7 linked regions of the Homo sapiens genome follow. The protein of the gene in region 4 interacts with the protein of the main gene of each other region in a pairwise test. Each region holds a gene or a part of one and is shown on either strand. Other genes may lie near its edges. The genes, in order: UBTD2, TRIM38, SCML2, RNF4, HNRNPCL2, DDX39A and ZCCHC17.

Evidence for each region.
Region 1: the proteins of RNF4 (region 4) and UBTD2 interact in binary tests that used the Homo sapiens proteins (3 or more experiments, as listed by UniProt).
Region 2: the proteins of RNF4 (region 4) and TRIM38 interact in binary tests that used the Homo sapiens proteins (3 or more experiments, as listed by UniProt).
Region 3: the proteins of RNF4 (region 4) and SCML2 interact in binary tests that used the Homo sapiens proteins (3 or more experiments, as listed by UniProt).
Region 5: the proteins of RNF4 (region 4) and HNRNPCL2 interact in binary tests that used the Homo sapiens proteins (3 or more experiments, as listed by UniProt).
Region 6: the proteins of RNF4 (region 4) and DDX39A interact in binary tests that used the Homo sapiens proteins (3 or more experiments, as listed by UniProt).
Region 7: the proteins of RNF4 (region 4) and ZCCHC17 interact in binary tests that used the Homo sapiens proteins (3 or more experiments, as listed by UniProt).

The regions. Positions count from the first base shown.
Region 1 is NC_000005.10:172,235,117-172,239,337, forward strand, and holds part of UBTD2 (ubiquitin domain-containing protein 2), read right to left. Parts: intron 1-4,221.
Region 2 is NC_000006.12:25,969,103-25,973,323, reverse strand, and holds part of TRIM38 (E3 ubiquitin-protein ligase TRIM38), read right to left. Parts: intron 4,000-4,221; coding exon 3,904-3,999; intron 1,456-3,903; coding exon 1,225-1,455; intron 271-1,224; coding exon 248-270; intron 152-247; coding exon 39-151; intron 1-38. UniProt on the Homo sapiens protein: E3 ubiquitin-protein and E3 SUMO-protein ligase that acts as a regulator of innate immunity. Acts as a negative regulator of type I interferon IFN-beta production by catalyzing 'Lys-48'-linked polyubiquitination of AZI2/NAP1, leading to its degradation.
Region 3 is NC_000023.11:18,323,376-18,327,596, forward strand, and holds part of SCML2 (sex comb on midleg-like protein 2), read right to left. Parts: intron 1,603-4,221; coding exon 1,532-1,602; intron 719-1,531; coding exon 484-718; intron 1-483. UniProt on the Homo sapiens protein: Putative Polycomb group (PcG) protein. PcG proteins act by forming multiprotein complexes, which are required to maintain the transcriptionally repressive state of homeotic genes throughout development.
Region 4 is NC_000004.12:2,506,385-2,510,605, reverse strand, and holds part of RNF4 (E3 ubiquitin-protein ligase RNF4), read right to left. Parts: intron 1-4,221. UniProt on the Homo sapiens protein: E3 ubiquitin-protein ligase which binds polysumoylated chains covalently attached to proteins and mediates 'Lys-6'-, 'Lys-11'-, 'Lys-48'- and 'Lys-63'-linked polyubiquitination of those substrates and their subsequent targeting to the proteasome for degradation.
Region 5 is NC_000001.11:13,114,724-13,118,564, forward strand, and holds HNRNPCL2 (heterogeneous nuclear ribonucleoprotein C-like 2), read right to left. Parts: upstream 2,132-3,841; 5' UTR 2,070-2,131; intron 1,859-2,069; 5' UTR 1,678-1,858; coding exon 796-1,677; 3' UTR 765-795; downstream 1-764.
Region 6 is NC_000019.10:14,412,489-14,416,709, forward strand, and holds part of DDX39A (ATP-dependent RNA helicase DDX39A), read right to left. Parts: intron 737-4,221; 5' UTR 733-736; coding exon 525-732; intron 191-524; coding exon 63-190; intron 1-62. UniProt on the Homo sapiens protein: Helicase that plays an essential role in mRNA export and is involved in multiple steps in RNA metabolism including alternative splicing. Regulates nuclear mRNA export to the cytoplasm through association with ECD.
Region 7 is NC_000001.11:31,334,654-31,338,874, forward strand, and holds part of ZCCHC17 (zinc finger CCHC domain-containing protein 17), read left to right. Parts: intron 1-2,521; coding exon 2,522-2,622; intron 2,623-4,221.

The sequences.
Region 1 (4,221 bases), on a different chromosome or scaffold from region 4:
TTTGTTCATTTTAAAAGAACTGCCTAGAAGGTAAGTGTTTCATCAGACTGTAAGAGCAGGATATGAGAGTCAAGAGACACCACGAAAGAGAGGCAAGATACTTGGGGAAGCAAACGGCAATAGTAGCTTGGACACATGAAACCAGGAAGTAGGAACTGAGAAAATCCAAAGAGGTAAAAGATTGCTTTTCAGTGCCCAGAGAAAGAAGAGCCAAACCACCAGAATCATGAACAAACTGATTAGAGGAATGCTTCCTCTAGCATTCTACTCTCTGGACTTTAGTCAAGGAACTGTAAATACCTTTCTCTGGAACTCAAACAGGAACTAATTTACAAAGGGTAGAATCAGTACTTTAGTTTTTTTGAGGAACTGGGAGTAAAAGAGATAATCTTTGATGCTAGGCCAAGGGATTAGCTCCGAACCACAAGGAGCAGAAGAACTATGATACCCTACCCTAGTTTCAACCCAAGAGAAGAAGAAAACAGAGGGCAAGTGGCAGCATCTCCCCTTAGACAATGTTATGTAGTAGTAGCGCTGGAATAAGCCTGATGCAGCATCCTTGCACCCAGATAACCATCTGGTGTATTATCTGTGATCTATTTCCATGGGTCATACTGACCTACAGAGCCATTCTTATTTATGGCTCTGTAAGATTATACAGTGCTATAGATAGGGAATAGTTTGATAGATGGGATAGAAGATAGAAAGAAAATTGAAGCTGGATGAAAAGATAAGAAGAGTGTTGGAAAAGAGTGGGTGGGAAATAAATGACACAGCGAGTGGGAAGGAGAGAGGGTGTGTGTCAAAATTCAATGTTCTATATTTAATTGCAGAAAGAATACCAATTTTAAAGAAATCACTCTCAAACTGGTTCTAAAGCATCCATGAAATTGACTACTCCCTCATTGGCCCAGGGCCAGATGAAATTTGGACTATGCAAAACAGAAAATAAAATGACTCCAGACCCTGGGCTATCTCTACTCTCCAGGCTATATTCTCAATAAAGACTGCCAGGTCAGGTCTCTTCTGTCCTCTCCCCTCAGGGTGGCACACCAAAAGACTAGCTGTTTTCCACTTAAAACACTCAGCATTAACTCAAATACTTTTTGCCCTCTAACTTGTCCTAGTGAAATGCAAAACAGGTGAGTTCTGAAAGGGTGAGGAAGCAGAATAGGAAACCCATCCATTTAGTAGCAGAGCTGGAAACAGAATCCAAGTCTCTTTATTTAATCAACAAATATGTACTGAGTGTCTACTGGGAGTAACACTACAGATGTGCCTATTACATTTAATTCAAATGCGAGAAACACAGTCTATACTAATGATTTTTCCCTACCTCTTCCAAATAATACAGACAATGCAGCTAGAGCATAATTCTCTAGAAGATGTTCAGAATCTGGTCTGATAACCACAACCCACTGATTGCACCAACACGATGGAATGCAAGGTTGATTTTATTTTCTGCTACATTATCATTTAGATGAGTTAGAGACAGTTTACAGACAACACTCAGCTTACTGACCAGGAAGTGGAAGATGGCACAGTAAGCAGGTAGACTCAGTAAGATATTTATCTGAATAAAGTTTTGGGTCTGAGTATTTCTACAGAATTATCTGGCCTCATATGTATTAAATGCATGAGAGATAACTCAGTATAATTTTTCCTGTCATTCTGAGAGAATTACAAAGCATGGACAAAAACAACAAAACCTCTACAGAAGAATCTCAGGACCTAAAACTAAAGCAAATGAAAGGAAGAGGACTTTGAAAAGAGGAAGCCAACAGAAAAACAATCATAATAAGGGTACAAAGTACCTTGGAAAAATTGTAAAACACCTTCCTTACAAATGTGAGGTAGGTTCATTTCACCTCTCTCCGTTTGTACTAAGCATAGATGAACAAAGTCCCACAAAAAGAACAGATGATGCGTTTATGTTGCTTAAGGAAAATCATTCCAAATGCATTTTCTTTAATTTTTAAATTTTATTCATATACTTGAGACAGAGTCTTGCTCTGTCGCCAAGGCTGGAGTGCACTGGTGCAACCCGACTCACTGCAACCTCCGCCTCCTGGGTTCAAGCGATTCTCCTGCCTCAGCCTCTCGAGTAGCTGGGACTACAGGCCCGCGCCACCATGCCCAGCTAATTTTTGTATTTTTAGTAGAGACGGGGTTTCACCATATTGGCCAGGATAGTTTCAATTTCTTGACTTCATGATCCGCCCGCCTCAGCCTCCCAAAGTGCTGGAATTACAGGCATGAGCCACTGCGACAGGCCCCCAATGCATTTTCAAATCTACATGCTGTCAAAAGTTTCACGGTAATTTGTGACATGAAGGAAGATTACTTTTATTTGCCTATTTCTGCCTGTATTATAAACATAATATAGAATATCTGTCTATAGAATGTCCACTGTTAAAAAATGATTAAATCTTTGTAACATAATTACTTTAGTGAAACCACAGAGCAGTGCAGAATTTTCACTACAAAATCTGAGGCTTGAAGCTTCATGTTAAACTAAATGACTAACCTTTGTTAAATAAATAACTGGGAAAAAAATTAGCATTTAGCAAAAGCATTTGAACTATCCTCTCGTGAAAACATGAAAATATTTAGGTTTGTTAAGAGGACTTAAGTTCATATTCATAAACCACTCATAATAATGCATGATATACAATAAAACTGCAAATAAATGTTTGCTAAATAAGTAAAAATGAACTTAGAGGTACTATATGAAATAACATCTTTAAGTCCTTTGGCAAAAATATACAGGCTGTCTTTCTTCTTTTCATAACTTCCCAATCCCTTCCTTAAATGTTAAAGAAATGTCCCTGATTGTCATGCACTTCCTGTGCCTTATCAGAGTACACTTGCTAGGCATTTGTTCACCAAATCTTATCCTTTGAGTTCAGGTGGTGCCACAAACCTGTATTTCTGAAAATGCAGTAGTTGGACATAGATTATCAGCCTGGCAGCTAAGTACCTCATGTTTGTACCAAGCCAAACATTTTTGTAAGATGTAGAATATATACATACTCAACTAGATTTCATTTTATGCTCTTAAACTTTCAGTTTTATCTGCTTCACACATCTTCTGACTGCTGATACCAAAAGAGAGATGCTTGGTAATCATACATAGCATATAGGACTAGGTACCATGCTCTAACAGTGAAGAATTTAAAGACAGGAAACATCTTTTATTCCCCAAATTTCTGCTTCTCTATCCTTAAACTGCAGGTAACCAACCATCTTTAGTGCACTATGAATTAACATATGAGAAATAAAAAATTAATAAAGCAATCTAATCTTAAAAAACCACACAATCTATTTCAGAAAATATCCTTTCCCCCATCAATCCACATTTACTTCAAAACGTGTCCAAAAGTCATCTTTTTCTCAGAAACCTCTTAATCATATTCACCCACTCTTTATCTTTCCTTGTAATCTTTAAACACTTCTTCCCACTCTGTAACAAATAAACAGATCTAACACACAGAAAACCCAAGTAAGGCTTGTTTCTCAGATCTAAATAACACATAATTTTAAATATTTTTACTACATAATTTAAAGCATTCTACCAAAAACTCATTTTGACATTGGTAAAAAACAATCAATTCTGAAGTTAAGTATGATTATAATTGTTTTCCTGTTTTGGGTTCCTCTTTGAAAACCTTGATTTAATGATGGAACGCTTCAAATGAAGAAAGAAGAGGCCATAATGCATGGATAAGGTGAAAATATCAAGATATGACTCAAGCAACAGCTTTAACCGGTTGAAAACTGGAAGCATCAGTTTCCATAAGACAATAGCGTGAGGGGAAAAATGGAGTATTAGAACCCTTCCGTAACAGACGGTGCTAAACTAAAAGGACACTTGCAAATATTTTCACATAAATTTAGAATGCACTATATACACACATATATACATACATGCATAATACATATATTCCCTTTACCTAAAGCAACTAACTGCCAAAAAAAAATAGGGATATGGGAATTAAAATGCCTAAAATGCCAACAATCAATACAATATGCAAATCTTCTCTACTGTTTGAGAATTTAAAGGTAGAAGAGACCTTAGATTGTATAATCCAACCTTACTGACAGATAGGAAACTAAGATGTAACAAGGATGGCTTAAAATAATCACCCCGTACTAGAACACACATGCCCAAATTCAAAGTCCAGATCTCACTGGGTGCGGTGGCTCACATCTGTAATCCCA
Region 2 (4,221 bases), on a different chromosome or scaffold from region 4:
TCTATCCACAGTATTCAGGAATTCTTTAGTGAACATACCTTGATGACTCCTTAACATTTTCTTCACATCGAAGTAAAGCTTGGAAACATTGCACATAGTATGAAGTTCCAAGGAGACAGCCTCTGATGTTTCCAGCTTCACAGCCCAACTCCTAGAATAAGCAGAGGCGAGAGATTTCTTCAGAGGTGCATTCCATTCATTTCTATATACGCACACCCCTCCCCTCCTGCATTCAAACAGGACTTACCTGCTCAAAGTGTCATTCACATTCTATAAAGAAACAAAAAGAAAAGGTGAGCATGGGAACATCGGTATTTCATGGGGCTTGTCATGCAGGGCTATTCTTCTTTGCTTTACCCGAAGAAGTAAAGAGAGTTACCCTAGTCTTAGTCTTAGATATTGATGGATACTCAAACAAAGTAATTCCCACCAGTCTTAGGTATTGATGGATACCCAGATGGAATAATTCCTACCAGCTTCTGGGAGATTCAGCATGGCAGGATGTTTATCAACATTTGCATCTATTCTCATCCTTGCTGAAGTCTGAGGGCCAGGAGCTTTGTCCATGCTCCCTCTGTAAGGACTAGCTTTTGGTGATCGGATTTCCTTCACAGTGAGCCCAGATTAGAGAACACTTATCATAAAGGTCCTTAGTGGTGAATCTGTGCACAGCCCTGAGACTGGGCCACTGCCACTAAGATGGTGGTAGCAGGTATCACACAGTGGTAAAGCAATCATGCTATACACTCAGCCTTACAGTATAGTCACCAATCCTGTTAGTTAGAACCAGAATTAATGGCTCCAGATGTTTATCTTCCTACAGATAAAGCTGTAGATTGTACCATAACAGCTCTGGAGCAAGGGTTCTACAAGCAAATCAGGGAAAAGGTTATCACTCATTTTGGCTGCCCCACTTCATCACCCATCAGTCACCTAGTGGAGTATTTCAGGAGAGAGTCAACAACCAGGGTTCTCTGCACATGGGCCAAGGAGGCAAACAGTGGTAAATGTTATCCCGTGGTTTCATTTGGCCAAGCTGTGTTCCCTCAGAAGTTTATTTTTCTAATTGACATAAAGGTACCCTATAAATTAGTGAAGGCCAGCCTGATGGCACTGATGTACATCTAAAAGAAACATTACTTTATCTTCCCATGCTTCCTTACCATTCTCCTTTAATAGCACTATAACATACCTTTTTTCCCTACTCCAAGTACACAGCCTCACCTGCAGCAATTTCTGGGCTGAGCCCTGACATTTTTCCTCCAGTTCCAGGATGTGGCTCTTGAGTTCATTGCTCTTCAGCCCCAGACCAGCCTCATAGTCCCTCAGTCTACTCAGAGTCTGTTGTTCTTCTTTCTCCAGCCTCCAGAGATAAGACTTCTCTTCCTCATGTAGGAAACACTGGAGATTCTTAAAGTCAGACCGGATTTTTTGTCTCTGAATCTGTACCTTCTCCTGGAGTCAAGAAAGTATGGTCAAAAGGTGGAAGTAAACCAAATGTCCATCTATGGATGAATGGATAAACAAGAATGAAAGTCTGACACACGCTACTACATGACAAGCCTTGAAGACATTCAAGCAAAATAAGCCAGAAACAAAAGGGCAAATATTGTAAGACTTTGCTTATACAAGGCATCTGGAGTAGTTAAGTTCATAGAGACAGAAAGTAAAATAGTGGTTACAAGGTGTTGGCAAGACCAGAAAATGGACAGTTATTGTTTAATGGGTAGTGAGTTTCAGTTTAGAAGATGAAAGATGAAACTGAGTTGCAGTTTGGAGATGGGAATGGTGATGGTTGCACAACAATGTAACAATGTAAAAGCACTTAATTCTACTGAACTATATACTTAAAAGTGGTTAAATGCTTAAGTGTTATATATATTTTCACACAAACACACACACACACACAATCAGCCACTGGGACATTATTTTCTCATGAGTCACTGAAGCTGGAAGAATGTCCCCAGTTTCCTGCTGCAGAGTCATGTGTGGGAGGCAGGCACTCAGATGTGGAAGAGGTTGCCTCAGATTCCTTATAGTCACCCAATTAATTTTCTTGTTCTTCAGCCAAGACACAGGAGAAAGCTGGGTTAGGAGTGCTAGATAATTTAATTGTGAAACTAGGGCCAAGTTCAAACACTTTATCAGTTACAAGGATAAAAAGAGGTTTTTACTTATGATTTAAGAAGTTAGATTTCTGAGTTGGAGCGATTTTCTTGAAGTAAAAGCTTATAATGAACATCACCCAGACTGGATTTTAAGACAACCAGGCTGGTAAGAGGGTCCATAATTCTTGGCAGGGGGAGCTTTGAGTGTGACAGGCATTTATTATGGTTAACTGAGAAATACTGTTCTACTACCCTAGGGTCATCTTAAGCATTCCTATGTGTAAGACTGACAGAAATCAAGTGAAACTCTCATCTGAGGAGATGTAAAGTTGCAATTTCCATTAGTGCTGTCTAAATTAATGCAGTGGGAGTGTGTATTCAGGGCAATTTGAATCTATGTTCTTGGATTGCAGTCTTCAAACTTGGCCCAAATAAACTCTCTACTTATCTTAAAAAAATAAAAATTAAAAAATAAAAATAAATTCATACAGTGTTTTGATGACTATGATATAGAAGAAGGGTCTTTGACTTAGGATGAGGTGGAATTTTTGTGTAGGAGACAGGTGCAGCTTTAACTCTTGTATAGACGGGTTTTCATATATGTTAGTTACAATCAAGGTCTTCCCCATTGCCCAAGATCCTAGAAATGGGGGAAGTAAGAGTGTACTCAGGAGCTCAAGAGCAACATCCACAAACAAAGATCAGGGTAGAGGTTAGAGAGGACTCCTGAAAGAGAGAAAATTGGTAATCAGCTTGTGGGATTTTACTGCAAGCTAGTGAATTATATAAATATAAAGATTGGTGCAAAAGTAATTGTGGTTTTTGCCTTTACTTTAATGGCAAAGACCGCAATTACTTTTGCACAAACCTAAATATTTCCATAAAAGAATGTGGCTCTGATAATGTGGAGGTTAGTCAGCCACGGAAATAATCTGAAAGTTTGTAGTTGCAAGTGTGTAGGTTGTTGCATTACTTGTGATGTACTTATAAATCAAGTATAGGCCGGGTGCAGTGGCTCACGCCTGTAATCCCAGCACTTTGGGAGGCTGAGGTGGGTGAATCACGAGGTCAGGAGATCAAGACCATCCTGGCCAACATGGTGAAACCCCGTCTCTACTAAAATACAAAAAATTAGCCAGGCATGGTAGCACATGCCTGTAATCCCAGCTACTCAAGAGGCTGAGGCAGGGGAATTGCTTGAACCCGGGAGGTGGACATTGCAGTGAGCTGAGATCGCACCACTACACTCCAGCAAGACTCCATCTCAAAAAATAGTAATAATTTAAAAATAAATAAATAAATAAAGTATATTTCTTTCATCAGCTTCATGAGCTAGAGTAGTATGAATTTCAATCTGGAGTGATCCTGTTTTCTAAGTGTTCACAAAGCTTGGTTTCTGTACCTGTAAAGTTGAGAGCCAGATGCTCCACTGTGGTAAAAGTGCCAGGGTAATGAGTTGAGGCCTGCAAACCAGGTTTATTTTGACGTATTTAAAGTTTGAGACCCACTCGATGCTTTTTCTAGGTAAATAGTCATACTAATTCTGCTTCTTCTGACTGAAGTATCAGGAATCCCAGCCAACTACAGTTTAAAGATGGAAAGATTGGTGCTAAATACTCATGGATGTAAACCTGGAACCAGGGGCATAAGTACAAATAATGGTTTCTTCCTTGGGTTTCATTTTTTCAATCTGGTTTAGTGAGAATAAATCCTCATTGTGCTTTTCCTCAATCATCCCCTATGCCTAAGCTCTAGAATGGAAAATAGCTTGAGATCAATGAAGTCAGATTCTTACTTTCCATTTAGTTATTCGCATTGCTGTGGACAGCTTCTGCTCCGTACATCTGTCTTCAAGTTGCTTCAGTTTTGTCACAGCTTTCTGGAGCTTTTCCTGAAGGAAAAATTTGATAAGTGAAGCCTATTCAATTTGACTCTTCATTAGGGACCTAGGGGGAATCCCAATCTTCTAAGATATATTTGAATAATAGTGAATATTTATAGAGTCCTCATTGTTTTTTGCTAGAGAGCATGCTAAAGGCTATATGTGCAGGAACATACTGATCCCCTTGGCAACCCTGAATAGTTGGTAGGATTTTAAACTTCATTTCTGTGC
Region 3 (4,221 bases), on a different chromosome or scaffold from region 4:
CTCTGATTTCTTCCCACTGTAGGTGAAATGAAATTCTTGAGTTTGAAACTGGAACCTGAATGTGGAATCATACCCTTCCCCTAGGCTTATCCCCATACCAAAATTGCTGAATGGCTCAGTGGACAATATTGAGAGAGCATGTGCCTTGTATCAAACGCTACAAAGTTCTTCCCCAGAAGGAGTTCTGAATCTGCATATGTAATCTAGTAGAGCTGGTTTTGACATTTCAAGTTTGAAGACCTAGCATGAGTCTTGCCCTGGAGTGGAGAAAACTTCTACACACATATGCCAAATATGTACTTAAGCAAAACTCCACAACAGATGGTGCTGATTTCCTCTCTCATCATACATTCTCCACAGCAACCACCTGACCATCTATTTGCAAGAATGCCCAAGAAAATAAATTTTAAAAGGCCACTTAAAGCCATTTCTATTGAATATCACATTAGAAAGAATACGCTATTTTTAAAACTTTCTTCTTACCTAGTGGAGGTTGAAGTAAGTCTCCTTCCTTTTCACATGTCCCAACAGGTTGTATGTCTGGGGAATCGACAAGCCTCCAAAAATCATTTCTGTTGTCACTACCATCCAGTCGTAACCGTAACCTGGCCCCAGTAATTCCAATAACCGTAGCAATACATACTGAAGTGGCATTGCGAGGGTCACGGGCTTCCAATTTCATACCAACTTTGAAATCATTCACAGGTGGAATCTGAGACTATATATATAAATAAAATTTGGTTAAAATGCATCAACTATAAGAGAAGACACATGGACAGCTATGTCACCAGAATACCTGAGGAACATTTTAAATAACAGTCACAGTGGATGATGAGTGAGGTCAGAGCTGTAAGAGTCAAGGAAAAGATCTTCAAAATTCTCTCCTTGGCTTGACATGCAGCATAAAAACACTACCCGCTGCTGTTCTCACTCATCTGCCCACTTCCAGGCAACCCAAATACAGCCTCTAAAATATACCGAGTGGCTTTCTAAAGTAAGAATCTGATTAGACCATTCCCCTTGAAATTAGCCAACCAGCAGCTCACCACTGCCTATAATGAAGTCCAACTCCTCAGCACAGTTTAAATGCCCCCACACCTTTAACCTCATTTCCACATTATCGCCTCTATCCACTTTGTGCTCCAGCCACCCCAAGCCATCCCTTAATACTCAGATTCTTTCATGCCCATGTGCCTTGGCTTTGGATGTTCTCTCTGCCTGGACTATCCTTCCTCCCATTCCAACCATCTCAAATAGCATCGCTCCTGTGAGCCCTTCCAGTATGGAGTTATCACACTTCTCATAATTATTTATTTATATGTCTGCCTTTCCTGCCAGATGGGCAATCATAAAGCTTATTATACCTGACATAGAGTAAGTTCTTAATGAATGCAAAGAGACCATCTGGCTCTTAAGAGGCACTACCACAATCCCACTATCTCCTCACACTACCAGAATCTAACAATCACACAGACGTCCTCCAACAAGTTAATAGTTTACATTAACTAACAGCTACAGAATCTTGGCATACCTGACGGAAGCACTCTGAAGGAGCACTTATAGACCCAGTCTCTTTCAAATACTCCTCCCAGTGGAAATCATCTGGAAAAAACACATGTGCAAAATAGTTTCTTAAAGCATATACAATGTAACTTTTAGTATATACAACTTTCAGGATTAAAATGGGTTTTAGTTCCATGCCTCTTAAAAGAAAAAAAAAAAAAACTTCCAAAAGAGTAGATTCAAAAATCCTGATCTACATTTCATGACCAGCATAAAAATAAAAAATAAGACGATATCCTGATAATAATGGCTCAGAAATAAATTATAACCTAGATACTCTCATTGTAATGTGGACTACAGCACAGTGATTCTAAAAATGTGGACGTTAGAAATAACTAAAGAAATTGTTTTAGAGTAATAGCGAAGTCTACCCATCTGTCTCTAATATAAATTTATTCAATAAATATGTTTTCACCACTTTATTCCATTAATGTGAAGGCACTTCTTTGTTATTCATGGGGAGCTAAAGGTTTAGTGTGCAGTCAAACAGAATTTTACCCTTGCAATGCTTTATGGAAAGAAAAAAATGTGGTAACCAGAGTAGTTTCTCAATGGACTATTAGATCTCTATTCAGAGTGTCAAGAAGATGGTGGCAGAACAAAGCAATAAACCAGTCATCAGTACAGTCACTAATATGGATTATTTTAATGACCTACATTTTCTACAGACTCTTGCTGTCCTTCCTCACTTAGTTTTCATGACATATTATAATGTTAGAAGAGAAGATCAGAAAGCAGAGCACATTGCCTGGCTTGAACGTATCATTTCACTGTGCCAGCCAGACTGTCAAGACACTGAGAAAAAGACTTGACAGTAGTAGTGAACAAACTAGTAATTCACATGATGTTTAATTCTCATCATTCATGAGGCTTTTCTATACTCTTGCTAAATTTCCTCACTATAAAAATATTGGGTTTGACAGTTCTCTTTCCTGGAAGAATCTACGTTTACCAGCTTCTTACATTTCCTTCAAAAGATATTATACTTAGATGACTCCCCCCTTGCAGAAAACAAAAAACAAAAAAACCTACAGAGTGCTGATAATGTTTAACAACCAGCTTTCTGGAAAATACAACAAAAAACCTGACTGACAGCGTTTGCAGATTTCCGTGATGTAAATATGACCACCATGGTTGACTGTAAGGTGCCAAGGTAAAACCACCAACCATGAAATTGGGAAAAGATGTACACAATTGGCTCTCCCAAGCCGGTGTGAGCCAGCTCCAGTGTACCACCATTACATATGTGTGTATGCATTTCTATATGTATGTATACATATTATATGTGGTATTAAGCATGTCACATGTAACATTTTGCACCTTGCTTTTGGTTAATAGATCTAAGAGACCGTTTCATCTAAAAGAAAATACTGGGTTTGATTCCACTTCCAGATGATGTGAAGCAAGCACTACCAGCATTGAAAATCATGCATCAGAGAGAGTGTTAAGAATGTGGGCTTTAGGGCCAGGTGCGGTGGCTCTGTAATCCCAGCACTTTGGGAGGCTGAGGTGAACAGATCACCTGAGGTCAGGAGTTCAAGACCAACCTGGCCAACATGGTGAAACACCATCTCTACTAAAAACACAAAAATTAGCCGGATGTGGTGGTGGGCACCTGTAATTCCCAACTACTTGGGAGGCTGAGGCAGCAGAATTGCTTGAACTCGGGAGGTGGAAGTTGCAGTGAGCCAAGATCGCACCACTGCACTCCAGCCTGGGCAACAGAACAAGACTCCATCTCAAAAAAAAAAAAAAAAAAGAATGTGGGCTTTAGAGTCAGATCTGCCTACTTCCAGTATGGCTCTACCTCTTACTAGCTATGTGACCCTGAGCAAGTCATTCACTTTCTTAGCCTCAGTTCCTTCATTTATAAAACGGGAAAAGTAATGTACATGGTACTAGATATGTTGAGAGCTAAATAAAGTAGCATATATGTAAGTCACTCAATAAATGGCACGTTATAAAACTAGAAGTCATAGTTGTGCTCAAATTTATTAATACAGAATAGCTTTGTCAAAAGTGAAAACCGAAATCCACGGCTTCAAAATTAAACAGACCAGATGTTTCAGTGATTGCCCCCTAGCACTACAGATTCTAAGTGAAGCTCTACTACCATATGATCTTGGAGAGCATTAAAAAAGAACAAAACGGGCGAGGCGCAGTGGCTCACTCCTGTAATCCCAGCACTTGGGAGGCCGAGGTGGGCAGATCACCTGAGGTCAGGAGTTCCAGACCAGCCTGGCCAACATGGCGAAACCCCGTTTCTACTAAAAAAAAAAAAATTGCTGGGCATCGTGGCGGGTGCCTCCCAGCTACTTGGGAGGCTGAGGCAGGAGAATCGCTTGAACCCGGAAGGTGGAGGCGAAGGTTGCAGTGAGCCAAGATCGCGCCACTGCACTCCAGCCTGGGCAACCAGGGGGAGACTCCGTCTCAACAACAACAACAAAAAAAGAACAAAACAAAACATTTAGTTGGGATGGATGGATGTCATTAAGAAGTTGACACCCTGGAGGAAAATAGTGTAAGTCAGAAATAACAAGCAGGAAATGAATACCCAAAGAACTAACACTCTTCCATAAACCAATGACATTTGTAAAATTTTTCAGTAATATTAGAAAATACTTAATTCATCTCCATAACACAAATTTTTAAAATATT
Region 4 (4,221 bases):
GAACCGAGTTCCCTCAAACAGACACACTCATGCTACTGGCAGGGCAGGGGATGGAGGCCGATTTGAGCTGCTGAGGGTGTTGGCACTGGCAGGCACAGCTGCATCCTGAAGAAACACTTCTGGCAGAGGCTGCTATGTCTTGAGCCCAGGCCTCTCCTCCCTAGAAAGGGTCTGCAGTACTGTCTACACGAACCCAAAGATATGAGTGCAGGGGGTGGATGCCGCCTCCAGACCTTCTTCATGGAGCAGACACAGCAGCTCCCTAGGTGGGTCAATGCTTCGAGGTCAAGAGTTATTCCTGGAGACCCAGCCCAGACACTGCTGATTTAGGCTTCTCCTTCCATGTTAAAATCCACTAAGCTTAGGAATAATTAGAGTGGATTTTGTTTCCCAAATGGCATCCTGACATACACAAACGGCCATGCAGGAAGAATGCAGGACTGAGTATAAAGGTCTTTGATTTGAGGATGAGAATATAATCCACATACGTGGAGCCACTGAAACGTGCTCCCCTTTCCTCTTAGAGGAGACTGCAGACGGTGAAAAGGGAAATCTGGGGACAATCAGTCAACCTCACCATCAGGACCAAACTTACCAGGGCCGGCACAATGTACTGTCCGCATGAAATCTAGAAAAGGAGGCTCTGGTAACAGTGCTGGCCCTTGGGGAAAGCCTTGGGTTTAGCTGGGAGCAAAAGCAAATTCTTCTGTGGCTAGAAATGACCCCAGCTTTCTACAGCTCCAACATGCCCCCACCCTCTGCCAAGATGACCCACTAATTAGGTGTGGACACCTGGAAAGGGTATGACACTCCCAGTGCCCCAGCCATGACAGTGCGCGTACTGAGTCTTTATGGTCTCTTGTGAGTCATACCCAGCTTGCCTGTGGATGGTACCAAACTGAGGCCTGTCCTGAGCACTGAGCCCAGGGGCTGCTGGCAAGCAGCAGGTGATACACACACAACTACTGGGGTGCATAAGAACAGGGTCGCCAGAGTGTTTCCTCACTGGTAACAATTCTGACTGTCCCCGCTTTTAATGAGAGAAAAACAGCTTCCAGATGAGTCTTCAGTATAAGAACAACACCACAGGCTGGGCGCGGTGGCTCACACCTGGAATCTCAGCACTTTGGGAGGCCGAGATGGGCGGATCACTCGAGGTCAGGAGTTCGAGACCAGCCTGACCAACATGGTGAAACCCTGTCTCTACTAAAACTACAAAAATTAGCTGGGTGTGGTGGCGCGTGGCTGTAGTCCCAACTACTTGGGAGGCTGAAGCAGGAGAATCACTTGAACCCAGGAGGTGGAGGGGGCAGTGAGCCGAGGTCACGCCATTGCACTCCAGCCTAGACAACAATAGCGAAACTGTCTCAAAAAGAAAAAAAGAAAAGCACAGGCCCGGTGGCTCATGCCTGCAATCCCAGCATTTTGGGAGGCAGAGGCGGGCAGAAAACCTGAGGTCGGGAGTTTGAGACCAGCCTGGCCAACATGGTGAAACCCTGTCTCTACTAAAACTACAAAAATTAGCCGGGTGTGGTGGTGGGCACCTGTAATCCCAGCTACTTGGGATGCTGAGGCAGGAGAATCACTTGAGCCCGGGAGGTGGAGGCTGCAGTGAGCTGAGATCCATTGTACTCCAGCCTAGGCGACAATAGTGAAACTGTCTTTAATTAAAAAAAAAAAAAAAAAAAAAAAAAGGCCTGGGGCAGTGGATCATGCCTGTAATCCCAGCACTCTGGGAGGCAGAGGCGGGCAGATCACCCGAGGTCGGGAGTTTGAGACCAGCCTGACCAACATGGAGAAACCCCGCCTCTACTAAAAACACAAAATTAGCCGGGCATGTGGTGGCTCATGTCTGTAATCCCAGCTACTCAGGAGGCTGAGGCAGGAGACTCACTTGAACCTGGGAGGTGGAGGTTGTGGTGAGCCGAGATTGCACCACTGCACTCCAGCCTGGGCAACAAGAGTGAAATTCCGTCTCAAAAACAAAACAAAACAAAAACAAAAAACAAAACAAAACAAAACAAAAACCAAACAAACAAAAAAACAAAACCAACGACCACAGCCTGGCCTCTCAGCTGGTGGACAATACAGTATTGATTACTGGTGTTCCCTCCACCCAGTGGCCGAGTCACATCAAATTCCAGAATCCCTGCAGACATCTCAAGAACTCTGTAATGAACCTAAATCACAGCTATGGCCCTGCAGGTGGCACAGTACTTGCCCAGCACAGAAGATAGGTGCAGAGGGAAGAGTACCAGCGCTTCATAAATGCCTACCAGATGAGTTGAGAGATGGATAGAGGTGTAACACAAGCTCTGGGGCCTCTAATCTATTTGAGAGGCTTTTAAGATAAGTGAAAAACCAAAACTGAAATAACAACAATTAACTAATCCCCTGAACTGAATAGTTTAATTAGTACTGTGGTAAGCTAGCCCAAGATCAGAAATTCACACTTCCTCGGCTGGGCATGGTGTCCCATATCTGCAATCCCAGCACCCTGGGAGGCCAAGGCGGGATGAATCACTTGAGCTCAGGAGGTCGAGACCATCCTGGGCAACACGGCGAGATCCCGTCAATACAAAGAATAAGCTGGGCATGGCAGTGTGTACCTGTAGTCCCAGTACTCCTGGGGCTGAGGCAGGAGGATCTCTTCAACCTGGGAGGTTGAGGCTACAGTGAGCTGAGCTCGGGCCCCTGCCTTCCAGCCTGGGCAACAGAGCAACACCCTGTCTCAAAAAGAGAAAAGAAAAAAAAAAAGAAAAAGATTCACTCACTCATACATTTTATTTTACTCTAGCTTCTTCTCAACTATGGACAACAGTCCATAGGTCAGAGCATTTAGAGACGAGTGGACCTGCAGCAGGCACATCTGATTGGTCACTCGAAGCCCCTTTGTGCTTCTAAAAGCACAGGTGAGCCTCAGAACACCTCTGCATGAAAGAAGCAAGTATAGGAATCACTGGGTCCCGTGCACTCAGGCTGGCCCCTGGCATTTCTAGGAATGTTCACCCAGCCAAGGGCACCAAGACACACTTGCTTTAGACAACTTTACAGCTCACAGCACTGCACATTGCTCCACTGGAAAAACAGCCATCTCCAAGCACTGTGCACACAAAAGGCTACTCAATGTCCAACAGCTACACACATCATGCAGTTACTGATGCCTGTTACTTGCGGCACTGGCAGGAAAGTCGGGAAGACTGGTGCGGACAATCACATTGTAGTTGAGTAGCCAACCCATCTTGGCTAATTCCTGGATATGATGTTTGGGCTTTTCTGAGCTCTTCTTTCTTTCTATGGAATTGGGCTGGCTCACTTATTCCAACAGTGTGCCTCCTGTGTCCTTTACACCCAGAGATCTACAGGGTTCTGTCCCTCCCTCCTTCCCTCCCTCCCTCCCTCTTCCTTCCTTCCTTCCAGAAAAGCCTTTATCAAGCATCCTTTCTACAGAGTCTCATAAATGGAAAACCAGGCAGGATACAGAATAAAACACACATAGTGTGACTTATTCATACATTATAGAAACAGACCAAAAAAAGATTCCAGAAAAATCAACCTTACTAAGAGACAATCTTTGGAAATTTAAGAAAAACAGCCTAAGTAACATTTTCAATAACCTTCCCCTTAAAGAATCTCGATTCCTTAAAGAGAGTTGCCAGTCTCTTTTCTACCACTGCATTGCTTCTAGCCAGAGCAGAGACTGGCATACTGAAAATGCTCATGAAAAGTGACCCAAGGTCAGGCTCAGTGGCTCACAACTACAATCCCAGCACTTTGGGAAACCAAGGTGGGAGGATCACTTGAGCCCAGGAGTTTGAGACCACCCTGGGCAATACGGTAAGACCTTGTCTCTCCAAAAAAATATAAAAAATCAGCCAGGGATGGTGACATACCCCTATAGTCCCAGCTACTTAGGAGGCTGAGGCAGGAAGCTCAATTGAGCCCAGAAGGTACAGGCTGCAGTGAGCCGTGATGGCACCACTGCACTCCAGCCTGGGTAACAAAGTGAGACCCTGTTTCAAGGGAAAAAAAAAGAAGAAGAAGAAGAAAAAAAACAAATTTGGAGAAAGCACACAACTTGGAAAAAAAAAAAAGATTATTTGCTGTTAAAAAGCAACCAAGGAGGCCGGACATGGTGGCTCACGTCTGTAATCCTAGCACTTTGGGAGGCTGAGTCAGGTATATCACTTGAGGCCAGGAGTTCAAGACCAGCCTGGTCAA
Region 5 (3,841 bases), on a different chromosome or scaffold from region 4:
GTAGAGATAGGGTTTTGCCATGTTGCTCAGGTTGGTCTCGAACCCCTGCGCTCAAACGATCCTCCCACCTTGGCCTCCCAAAGTGTTGTAGTTACAGGCATGAGTCATTGCTCCCACCAAGAATTTTTTTTCTTTAAATTGCTGGTTTAATAAAGAGTTGTTTATTTTCAGGGAAAAGGTCCCAAACATCAAGCTGTTCACAAAAATAACCCACGGTATCAACTTTAGAAAACACATTTGAAGACTATAACACCAATTATGTTTCTGAGGATGCATTTGACATGCCAACTCTCATTCACAAAAATACATTGTTAGATTTTTGTTGAACTGCCCCACACAGCACACTAATATGGGGTGTAACACACATACTTGTAACTCCAAGCTGCTTTCAGGAGCTACTCAACTCAATGAGATTGCCTTTGCAGTTAGGGAAGCAACTACTGAACTTATGTATGAAAGAAAAGAACTGTATTCCCTGCATAACAAGAGATTATTTTGGAGACAGTTGATAAAAACCATACATCCTTTTTACTGTTAAGTCATAAAGAGGTGTCAAAATTAAAAGCAAAAATTACAGGGTAAGACTTAGGAAAACTACTAGGGGTGTCATGGGAAGTGAAAATGGGACTAGGCGCAGGGCAATATGAATTAATGAATGTGGGAAGGACAAGGATGGGGAGAACAGTAAGCATGTGCTGAAGATACTAAGGGAGAGGATCTGGTGAAAAATTTGTTGTTAGACAAGCTCCTAGGTAAAGAAACAATGGGATAAGATTTCTCAACCCCACTATGTGCTTAAGAGTCATCCTGGCCATTGGTGCTGTCTCTGTTATCCTCTCCTTCCTCAGCATCTTTTTCATTATTCTTGATCAAATGAAGCTGGTTGTCCCCCTGATCTTCATTATCATCATCATCCAGTGGGTCCCCCTCCTCAGCAGAGTCTTCTGCACCCCCCTCAGACTCCATCTTTACATGAGTCTCATCTTTCTTCATGGAGCTACTGCTCTGCTCCTCTTCTGACTTAGCATTTTTCACCTCTACCTCTTGTTTGCTCTGTTCCTTTTCAATTTTTTCCAGGTTTTCCAGGAGAGAATCCACTTTCTGTTTTATCTGGGTCAACTCCTGCTTAATGGCCTGAAGGTCATCTCCTTTCAGCTTTCCAGACTTGGAAGATCCCCGCTTTCCACTCTTAGAATTGAAGCCACTTTTGCCCCTTCGTGAGGTGTTTCCTGATATGCGCTGGCGTTTCGAGGGCACTACAGCCAGAGCAATGGGAGGAGGAGGAGGTACACGTGCTGGGAAACTGTACATCCCATCATAATAATCCCGTTGAAAGCCATAGTCCAAGTCAAAAGAGGAGCCGTACATCTCCGCTGCGGATCGTTTCACACCTGCGTTTCCTCGGTTCACTTTTGGCTCTGCAGCCAGGTTAATAACTGCAACCTGGCTAGCAATCATTCTGCCATCCTCTCCTGCTACAGCAGCCCGGGCATTTTTCTCCTTATCATATTGAACGAAGGCAAAGCCCTTATGAACAGAGCAGCCCGCAATTTTGCCATACTTGGAAAAGATCGCCTCCACATCAGATTTCTTGACAACAAGAGTGTTGAGATTCCCAATGAACACACGGGAGTTCACGGAGTGAGGATCCATCTTGTTGGTAACGTTGCTGGCCATTGTGTTGGATGATAAGGTTTCTCAAAAAGCCAAAAACAGGAGGCGGGAGGGAGAAGAGATTCGATTCTAAGTCTCCTACTGCCGGGTTCTACGGGGAGAAACTGACTGCGGCTCGAGGCCAGAAATGCAGCCAAAACAGCTCAGTCTTCGTCTCTTCACAAAATGGCTGCCAACAAGAATTCTGAAATGATGTAAAGAAAAGCACAACAACATTTTTGAAATCACGACAAAATTGCATTTAGAAAAAAAAATCAAAGCTTCAAAGTGTTCATATGAAAAAAAGAAAAAAAGACATGATATAGTTCTATGCCATCGTAGGCTGCACTGTCACCGTTCTAGACCGGCTGACTGTAGGTCACATGGGAGTGTCCTTACAGAAATTAGTGACTTACCAGATCTGGTTGTAGTTTAGAAGGTGCTCAGACCTCAGGAAGAGCCAAGCAGGAACTCCAGGCTTGAAGACTTTGAGTTTGTCCTGTGGGTCTTTAGAAGCTTTTATTGACCTTTCTAATCACAACTCCCACCCACGCCCCTCCACGTATCCGCTGCTAGCTTCCAATCAAAAAGCGATATCTGATTGCATTTCTGAAGCTCCACTCAGTTAATCCTGATTGGGTTTTTGACTGTCCGAAGACTAATGGATTGAACGAGATATCCATTCATATCACATATGCATAATCATTTTATGAATTAAGAAATTGACAGAGTTAGGGATAGAGTGGAAATCAAGAATTCATTCACTCAAGGCCAGGTGAGGTGGCTCACACTTGTAATCCCAGCACTTTGGGAGGCCAAGGTAGGTGGATCACCTGAGGTCAGGAGTTCAAGACCAGCCTGGCCCACATGGTGAAACCCTGTCTCTACAAAAATAGAAAAGTTAGCCAGGCACGATGGTGGCTGCCTGTAGTCCAGTTACTCATGCGGCTGAGGTGGGAGAATCCCTTGAACCCTGGAGGCTGAGTTTGCAGTGAGCCAAGATTACACCATTGCCCTCCTGACTGGGCGACAGAGGGAGATTTTGTCAAAAAAAATGCATTCATTCATGAAATCCACAAACACTGATGGAATTTTACTGCTATTTCGCCTTCAAGTCCTGATGTGAGGCAGGGAAGGGGTTGATCTGTTCCAGACATTAGACAGAAAAATAAAACCTGAAAGTAGTGTTGTGGGGAGATCTTTGGCCACATCAAAATTATAAAATTTATAAAAATATTTCTAGTTAAAATAGCTGTATAAACACAGAGGAGTCGTCCCTACAAAATAAGAATAAAGATCTCCATGTATGGAATGGTCTTGTGGGTTTTATATCACCTAAGGTAGCAGTTTCTTCACTCGTGCTGGTGGAAGAGAGGTGCCACTGAGGGCTTGAGTGGTCTCAGGGCTTAGGTTAAGTCTTCTCTGGAAGAAATTGAAATGATACCTGTAAACTTTATAAGTTTAATCAGTGAAGAAGGGAGGGGGAGAAACAAAAATAAACCAAGCTTGCAGCGCATTCAGCATTCACCATGAGGTCAGCTTGCTCTCTGACCTTCTTCCTCATGGTTGCTGGCAGCTTACTGTCCCCAAATCAAGTAGACCTTAGCTTACAGTTCCCCTTAACTACCCTGCAGACAACAATTTAAGCCTTGTAAAACATTAACTTTCTCATTTGAGATATTCTTTCAGGTTCTGCATGTCAGTGAAACTACTGATGCCAGCTGATCTGAAGGGCTCTGCAAGGCACCAACTCACCAAAGAATGCAGTTTTGACATCCTGATGACTTCATCCCTCTTACCTCTACACCAACTTTCCAGCCCCTTGCTATCCAGGATCCACTGGAAACCCTCAGTACTACTTGGGGAGATGAATTTGAGGATATCCTCCTAGCTTCTCATTTAGCCACCCTGTGATCATTAAACTGTCTGCTGCAAACACTGCTGTCTCAGAATATTGGTCAGCTACTGTGCAGCAGGCATAGGAACCTGATGGTCCTGTAATAAAATCATGTCAAAATTACAAAGAGAAGTGAGGGTAGAGGATGGGCATGGTTGAGCTGGGTGTTTTAATGGGATCCTGGGAGTTAACCAAGACTTGGTAAACATGTTGGGGGTTACTGAGGGGGTGGAGGTGGAATCTATCCAACATTTCACTGATGCCCCTTTACTTTTGATTCTTAGGACCAAG
Region 6 (4,221 bases), on a different chromosome or scaffold from region 4:
CAGCCTACTCTACTTCCGCCGCCACAGGCAGGGTGGGGCCAGGAAGGGAGGAGCCCACCCACCTGTCCGTTGACAGGCTCAATCTGCTGTAGGGTGGCCAGCACGAAGACCGCTGTCTTGCCCATCCCGGACTTGGCCTGGCACAGGACGTCCATGCCCAGGATGGCCTGGGGAATGCACTCATGCTGGACTGCAGGAGAAGCAGAGCGTGAGGGACGAGAACCTGGATGCACCCCCGTGCAGGATCCTCACCAGTTGACCGGGGGCCCACAGTGAGGGCAATCAGAAGAGGCCGAGTCCGGACAAGGCCACAGACACCTGCAGGGCTGGGGTATCCGCCTGGTCAAAGCAGAACGCCCCACTGCCGAGGGCAGCCACAGGCCCCGCTGGGCACAACTGATCCGCGGGACAGACGGGCCCCTCCCTCACCCACGGCAAACTGGAGGCGGCACCGCTCTGGGCGGGCAGGGCTGGTCTTGTCTTGGTGAGGACCTGGGCAAGAGGATAACACCCAGAAGGCGTACCCTCAGAAGGATGCTCAAAGCCACAGTCCACGATGGCCCGCAGGAGCTCCGGCTTCAGCAGAAAGTCCCGGAAGCCAGAGCTGTGGATGGAAACGTAGGATCCCTTGATGTCTTTCTTAGGGGGAGCTGGTGTGCTCTCTTGAGGAGCCTGGGGCTCTTCCTCTTCATCGTAATCCAAAAGATCGTTTTCCACATCCTGTTCTGCCATGATGCTGAGAAGAGAGAGAGGCAGGGTCCCGCGAGTGGGCACAGAAGGATGATGAAGCTTCATTCAAATGGCATTCTCTGCCGCCTCCTTCCATGAGTGAGCCCATCAGCTCTACCTGGGCTGCACCTCGCAGCTTCGCCCTGTCTCCACCTCCCCACCCCCAAGCTACCCCATCTCTCCCCCATGCCCCTCTGGCCACACCCACAGACAGAACACCCTCCACCTCCAAGGGCTTCCCATGGCTCACAGAGTTAAAATCCCAACTCTCACCACAGGCCAGGCAATCCCCTTGGTTTGACCCCTGCTCACCTCATCCCACACCACCCCCAGCCTTGTTCAGCTGCTCAGACCCCTGGAGCCCCTGCCCCAAGCCTTTGAACCTGGCTGTCACCGCCAGGAATGCTCTGCCCCCAGGTCTCTGCACAAATGCCTCCTTCTCCACACGCAAGCCTCAGCTCCAGTGAACCTCCTCAGACTACTCAGCCCAGAGAAGCCCCCTCCCTATCACTCCCCAAGGAACCCACTGGGCTTTCATGGGGCAGGAGCCCAAAGATCCCAGGGGTGGGGCTGCCAGGATGCTGGTGGGAACTGAGTTTGCGAGAGAGCAAGCAGTATCTGTCCAGCCCCAGCTTCTCCCACTCTCTGTGGTCTGCACAGGGGAATAATTAAGTGCTCTCATGAAAGGCCTCCTATTGGGCCTGGGCCAATAAAAATAAAGCTGAGAAGATGGAAAATGGAATTAATACAAAGTCTGCCTACCTCTTTGCTTTATTAATCTAATGCATACCAAGTGCCTGCTGGGTGCAAGGGACCCAAACATGAGGACAATTGTCTTTCGTCCTCCTCCCCTACCCCAGACTCCAGTGGGGGGTGGAGCAGAGGGTGACAGCTGCTACAATTCTTCCTGAGGCTGGATGCTGAGGATCCTAGGCCACTTTTGGCCTCGCTGTCACTCATTCCCGGCTCAGAAACAGCAATTCCATTGTCTCAATGGCTGTTTTCTCTCTCTCAACCTCCCTGTCCATGAGGCAGTGAATCCCACCAAGGCCCTCTGGCCAGTTCTCACCTATGCTACCATGCTGGCCCCAAGCTGCTATCACCTGTTTTATTATTATTATTATTATTATTATTATTATTATTATTATTATTATTGAGATGAAGTCTTGCTGTCACCCAGGCTGCAGTGCAGTGGCGCAACCTCGGCTCACTGCAACCTCCACCTCCAGGGTTCAAGATTCTCCTGCCTCAGCCTCCTGAGTATCTGGGATTACAGGTGCTTGCCACCATGCCCAGCTAATTTTTGTAGTTTTCGTAGAGACAGGGTTTCACCATGTTGGTCAGGCTGGTCTCAAACTCCTGACCTCATGATCTACCCACCTCAGCCTCCTAAAGTGCTGGGATTACAGGTGTGAGCCACCGCGCCTGGCCTTATTATTATTTTTAACTAGAACAGCTTTACAGGCTGCGCGCGGTGGCTCACGCCTGTAATCCCAGCACTTTTGAGAGACCAAGGCGGGTGGGTCACCTGAAGTCAGGAGTTCGAGACCAGCCTGACCAACATGGTGAAACCCCAACTCTACTAAAAATACAAAAATTTAGCCAGGCATGGTGGCAGGCGCCTATAATCCCAGCTACTCGGGAAGCTGAGGCAGAAAAATTGCTTAAACCTGGGAGGCGGAGGTTGTGATGGGCTGAAATCACGCTTCACTCCAGCCTAAAAAAAAAAAAAAAAAAAAAGAAAAGCTTCACAGAGATATTTACATGCTATACAACTCACCACTTAAGGCAGATAATTCAGTGGTTTTTAGTGTAGTCACAGACATGTGCAACCACTACCACATGTGCAATTTTAGAATACTTCATCACCTTGAAATAAAAGCTCCTGTACCCTTTACGTATCCATACCCTAAACACCCCACCCCAGCCCCGGGCAACCACTAATCTGCTTTCTGTTTCTATGGATTTGCCTGTTGTTGTGGACATTTCACATAAATGAAATCTTATAATTTGTGACATTTTGTGTCTGGCTTCTTTCACTCAGCACAGTGTGCTCTACCACATCATCAGTACTCCCTTCCTTTTTTTTCCCCCCTCTTTGAGACAAGGTCTTGCTCTGTTGCCCAGGCTGGAGTGCAGTGGCCCAATCAAAGCTCACTTCAACCTCTGCCTCCCGGGCTCAATCAAGCGATCTTCCCACCTCAGCCTCCCTAGTAGCAGGAGCTACATGCGCCCGCCACCACTAATTTTTGTATTTGTAACAGAGATGGGGTTTCACCATGTTGCCCAAGCTGATCTCCAACTTGTGGGCTCAGGCGATCCGCCCACCTCAGCCTTCCAAAGTGCTGGGATTACAGGTGTGAGCCACCACACCTGGCCTCATTTCTTTCCATGGTCACCTAATGTTCCATCTCACCAACATACTACATTTTGCTTAACCACTGTCAGCTGGACATGTAGGTGCCATCATCTCTTGCCTGAATTAAGCCAATATCCTCCTCCCTGGTTTCCCTGTTGCCATCCCCCAGCCCCTCCCCAGAGCAGCCAGAAAGACCCTATCAAACTAAGTCACGGCCAGGCGCGGTGGCTCACACCTGTAATCCCAGCACTTTGGGAGGCCTAGGCGGGCGGACCACCTGAGGTCAGGAGTCCAGGACCAGCCTGACCAACATGGTGAAACCCCATCTCTACTAAAAATACCAAAAATGTGCCGGGTGTGGTGGCGGGTACCTGTAATCCCAGCTACTTGGAGGCAGGAGAATCACTTGAACCTAGGAGGCAGAGGTTGCAGAGAGCCGAGATCACACCATGGCCCTCCAGCCTGGGCGACAGAGCAAGACCAAGACTCTGTCTCAAAAAAAAAAACAAACCTAAGAGTACATCACTATTCTGCTCAAAACTTTTAATGGGTTCCTACTGTGCTTAGAAAAAAACTCGAGTCCTCACAAAGCCAGCCTACCGGGCCCCTCCTAACCCGACTCCTCTATACTCATACCTCATCTCCCCCATTGCCCCTCACTCGCCAGCCTTGCTGCCGTGTCTCAAACACACCTCAGCACCTTTGCACTTGCTGTTCCTGCTGCCTGGAAGGGTCACAAATCCCCCACTTCTTTTGGGCCTCCTTTGCTCCAGAAAGGCATTTCCTCACAGCCCCAACTAAAACAGCACCGCTTCCAGTCAGCCCTGCCCTGTGAGAACAGCTAATAAGCACTCCATAGCAATGGCTGAATAAATGGAACTAGAATAAAGGCGTTCAGGCAGAGTTGAACATGTCTCTTTATCTGACCCTTCAAACAGGCAATCTGAAGGGGTCACTTCCCAGGCAGCAGGGAAAACAGGAGCCAAGAAAGGTCAGTCCGAAAAGCACCAGAGCCTTTTGGGGTATGCAGAGTAGGACTAGCTGGCTGGCGTCAGGGCAGAAGACAAAGCTGGAAGAGCTGGTCAGCCACACAGGGCATGTGTTTGTTTGTTTGTTTTTTTGTTTTTTGAGAC
Region 7 (4,221 bases), on a different chromosome or scaffold from region 4:
TACTGTATAATTTTGCATTATGCTTTTGTTATTTAGTATGGGAAAATGCTAGATACCTACAGTACTTGATACATAATAGGCACTCAATAACTATTTACTAAAGAAGGAATTATTGACTTGTTTAAAAATCTTTTGAATGGACCATCAAGCGACTATACCATAATTGACCTAATTGTTATCCTTTGTTGTTTCTAAATTTTCCTGTCTTAAAAATACATTGAATATTTTGATGTAAATCACTTTTCCTGAAGCATATAGTTTTTCCTATGTATAAAGTTATTTTCTTAGGACAGGTTCCCAGAAGCAATTAGGGGTCAAATAAAGTATTAGAACTCTTGGTTGCAAGGGGCAGAAACTTAATTGGGAAACATTTTGGCCAATCTTGTCAGGGGCTTCCAGGATAACTCTCAGTTATGTTTCTCAGTTATGTTTCTGCCCCTTGTCTCTTTCCTCTATTGCTGGGACTTCAGCCTTTGCTGTATTGGGTGCTCAGTTTATACTCCCAGGGCTTTGCTTCTTGTTTACCAGTGCTCTTCTTTGCTTTTCTCTGGCAGACTCTTGCCATCTGGTGGTAAAGATTGGCTTTGGCAATTTTTTGTAGTTTACAATCCTGATTTGTATATGTAAAATGTAATAAGCAAGGTGGTTCTCCCAAGGAAAGGATTTTGGACAGACAGGAAAAGGATGTTTGCTATAAGTGTTTTATTAAATGTTATTAAAATATTATTTGATTTATTTTTGAGACAAAGTCTCGCTCTGTCACCTAGGCTGGAGTGCAGTGGTGCCATCACAGCTTACTGTAGCCTTGACTTCCTGGGCTCAAGCCATCCTCCCACCTCAGCCTCCTGAGTATCTAGGACTACAAGCATGCACCACCACATCCTATTAATTTTTCTGTAATTTTTCTAGAGATGGGGTCTCACTGTATTGCCCAGGCTAGTCTTGAATACCTGGGCTCAAGCAGTCCTCCCAAAGTGCTGGGATTACAGGCCTGAGCTTCCATGCCCAGCAATTATTTCATTTTAAATTATTTTTATTAAATGTGTAATAGTTTATTAGTATTTTATCATTCTTGATAGCCATTGATAGTGACTTCCAAAAGTTTATTCTAGCCTTAGTAATAGTTCTTATTTTACTATCCTTTCACCACATTGAATATTATTTTCTAAATACTTTGCTAATTTAATGGATTAAAAATAGTAGCTTGTTTATATTTCCTTTTTTAACTTAACGTCTATCATAAATATTTTTTGTAATTAATTTAAATGGCTGTTTACTTTTTTATTCCACAGATTTACTATGTTTGCCATGCTGTTTTCCAGTTATTGTTCATTAGGGTTGTTTTATGGTTCTTATATATTTTTTAACCTCTGTAGGTAATAATACCGCAAGTTATTTATGTATTTATGTATGTATGTATGTATTTATTTATTTGTGAGATGGGGGTCTTGCTCTGTCACCCAGGCTGGAGTGCAGTGGCGCAATCTCAGCTCACTCCAACCTCTGCCTCCTGGGCTCAAGCAGTGCTCCCACCTCAGCCTCTTGAGTAGCTGGGATCACAGGTTTGCACCACCACGCCCAGGTAATTTTTGTATTTTTGGTAGAGATGGGGTTTTATCATGTTGCCCAGGCTAGACTGCAAGTTATTTCAGCTCTGTAAGTTTTTTGGCTCTTGTGAGTTTTTCCTTTGAAAAAATTCTATTGATGATATTCTTGCATCAAAGATAAACATCTTTATCTTTTTGCTTTCAAATAATTTTACCAACTTATATTTCTATCAGTATTGTGTAACTACAGATATTTTATCACATCTTTACTAATATGGAGCATTACATTTTTTAAATTTTTTGTTTTTTATTTTTAAAATAAGATTTACAATATTTAAAAAATAGAGATGGGGTCTCGTTATGTTGACCAGGCTGGTCTCAAACTCCTTGCCTCAAGGTATTCTCCCATCTTGGCCTTGCAAAGTGTTGGGATTACAGGCGTGAGCCACTGTGCCTGGCCTATTTTATTTACTTATTTTTTTGAACCAAGGTCTCACTCTGTCACCTGGGCTGGAGTGCAGTGGTGCAGTTGCAGCTCACTGCAGTTTCAGCCTCCTGGGCTCATGCGATCCTCCCATCTCAGCCTCCTAAGTAGCTAGAGCTACAGACACGTGCCACCATGCCTGGCCAGGTTTTTTTTTTTTTGTATTTTTTGTAGAGACTGGGTTTTGGCATGTTTCCCAGGCTGGTCTTGAACTCCTGAGCTCAGGCAATCTGCCCGCCTCAGCCTTCCAAAGTTCTGGGATTACAGGCATGAGCCACTGTGCCCGGCCACTTTGAGCATTATTTTAAGAATGTTTGTTGGTTGATTGGGTATAAAAAGCAGTCTCAATTTGCAGTTTTAAGTTTCACGCTTTTCAGTAAAAATTTTCATTTTTCCCTTGCATTCCCCAACTCTTACCTTCTTATCCAGTTTAGAGTATAAATACCAGATATGCCCTCTGCTTTACGTTATTTCTTCTTCTTGTGCCCAGGTCTGGTCCATCGAACTCATATGTCATCCTGTCGGGTGGATAAGCCCTCTGAGATAGTAGATGTTGGAGATAAAGTGTGGGTGAAGCTTATTGGCCGAGAGGTAAAGTTCTGTGCGGCTCCCTTGTGGTTAGAAAGGATTAGGAAGAGCTGGGATTTTTGATATTTTATGATAGTGAGTGTGTAAATTTTGTTAATTGTGCTGATAATCTTATTTTTAAATCCTGCCATTAGAATCTATTCTGAATTCAAACCTTCTGGTAGACTGTCCTGCAAACTCAGAAGGAATGATATGAGCTATAAAAGTGTGGTGCAATAAGTGCACGTTTGTAAAACTTCCCTCCCTGAAGTTTACCCATAGGGTGGGCCGGAGGAGAGAAAAAAGAACCAAAAAGAGAGAAGGAAAGTTGACCTATGGGACAAGTGTTTATCACAGACTTCAAAGAATACCTGCCAGATACACTTCAGTTTGGGACAAAACAAAAAGAACACAGATAGTTTACAGTCATTTTCCCTAATATCTGGCACCATGCAATGTGCAGAAAGTGAAAAAAATCTGAAGGACCCTGTTACTCACTTGAGGGTATGAGGGCTGTGGGTGTGGGCCGACCACAGGAGAAATAAGAGCATACACTGAGTCCTGTTCTACCAGAGACAGCACAGGAGATAGGCATGAAAGAACTATTATTCAACAATATTTAAGTGCTTAATATGTGCTAGGTTTGGGAGATATAAGAGCGAACCAGACAAAAATGATCCCAGCTATTATGGAGTTAATATAGAATATAAGTAGAGACAATTTTTCTTTCTTTTTTGAGACAGGGTCTCTCTTTGTCACCCAGGCTGGAGTACAGTGGTGCCATCACGGCTCACTGCAACCTCAGCCTCCTGGGCTCAACTGATCTTGCCACCTCAGCCTCCTGAGTATCTGGGACTACAGGCACGCACCACTAAACCTGGCCTTTTTTTTTTTTTTTTTTTTAATTTTTTTGTCAAGATGGGGTCTCACTGTGTTACTACCCAGGCTGGTTCAAACTCCTGGGCTCAAGTGATCCTCCTGCCTTTGCCTCCCCAAGTGCTGGAATTACAGGCATGAATTTCCATGCCTGACCAAGACAAATATACATAAAATAATTGCAAGTTATATTAAGTGCTATATTGGGTTCAAACACTATTGGAAGAAGATTTCTAGTTGTCAGGAAAGGACTCTTTGAGGAGATAGAATATGAGCTGAGACCTTAAAGAAAAGGAACTAGTCATGGAAGACTTGGGATAGGAACATTCCAGGCAGAGAGAATAACTGATGCAAAGACCCTGAAGTGAAGAAGTGCTTCATGTGCTGCGGGAAGCAAAAGAAGACCAATGTGACAAATGTCTTCATGCTTAAAGAAGCTCTAGACCAAGTCCAGAAGGAGATCTAGTCTCTTGAAGTATTCAAAAACCTATTCTGGACTTAGGGATATCTCAACAAATCACTATGCTGAACTTACCTGGAAGAAAAACTTTTATTTTCTGCCTGGTTACTTCCACAAGCCATGGATTTTTTGAGCTACCATTTTTGTCTTTCCCTCAGAGGGACAAGAATGAGATTAAGACTGTTTCCTAAAATTCTTCTGCCACAGGGTCTACCTGTTATGCTTATTTGTATCTGCAATGTTCCTAGCACAGTACCTGGTCCATTAAAGAAGCTCAATGTTATGAT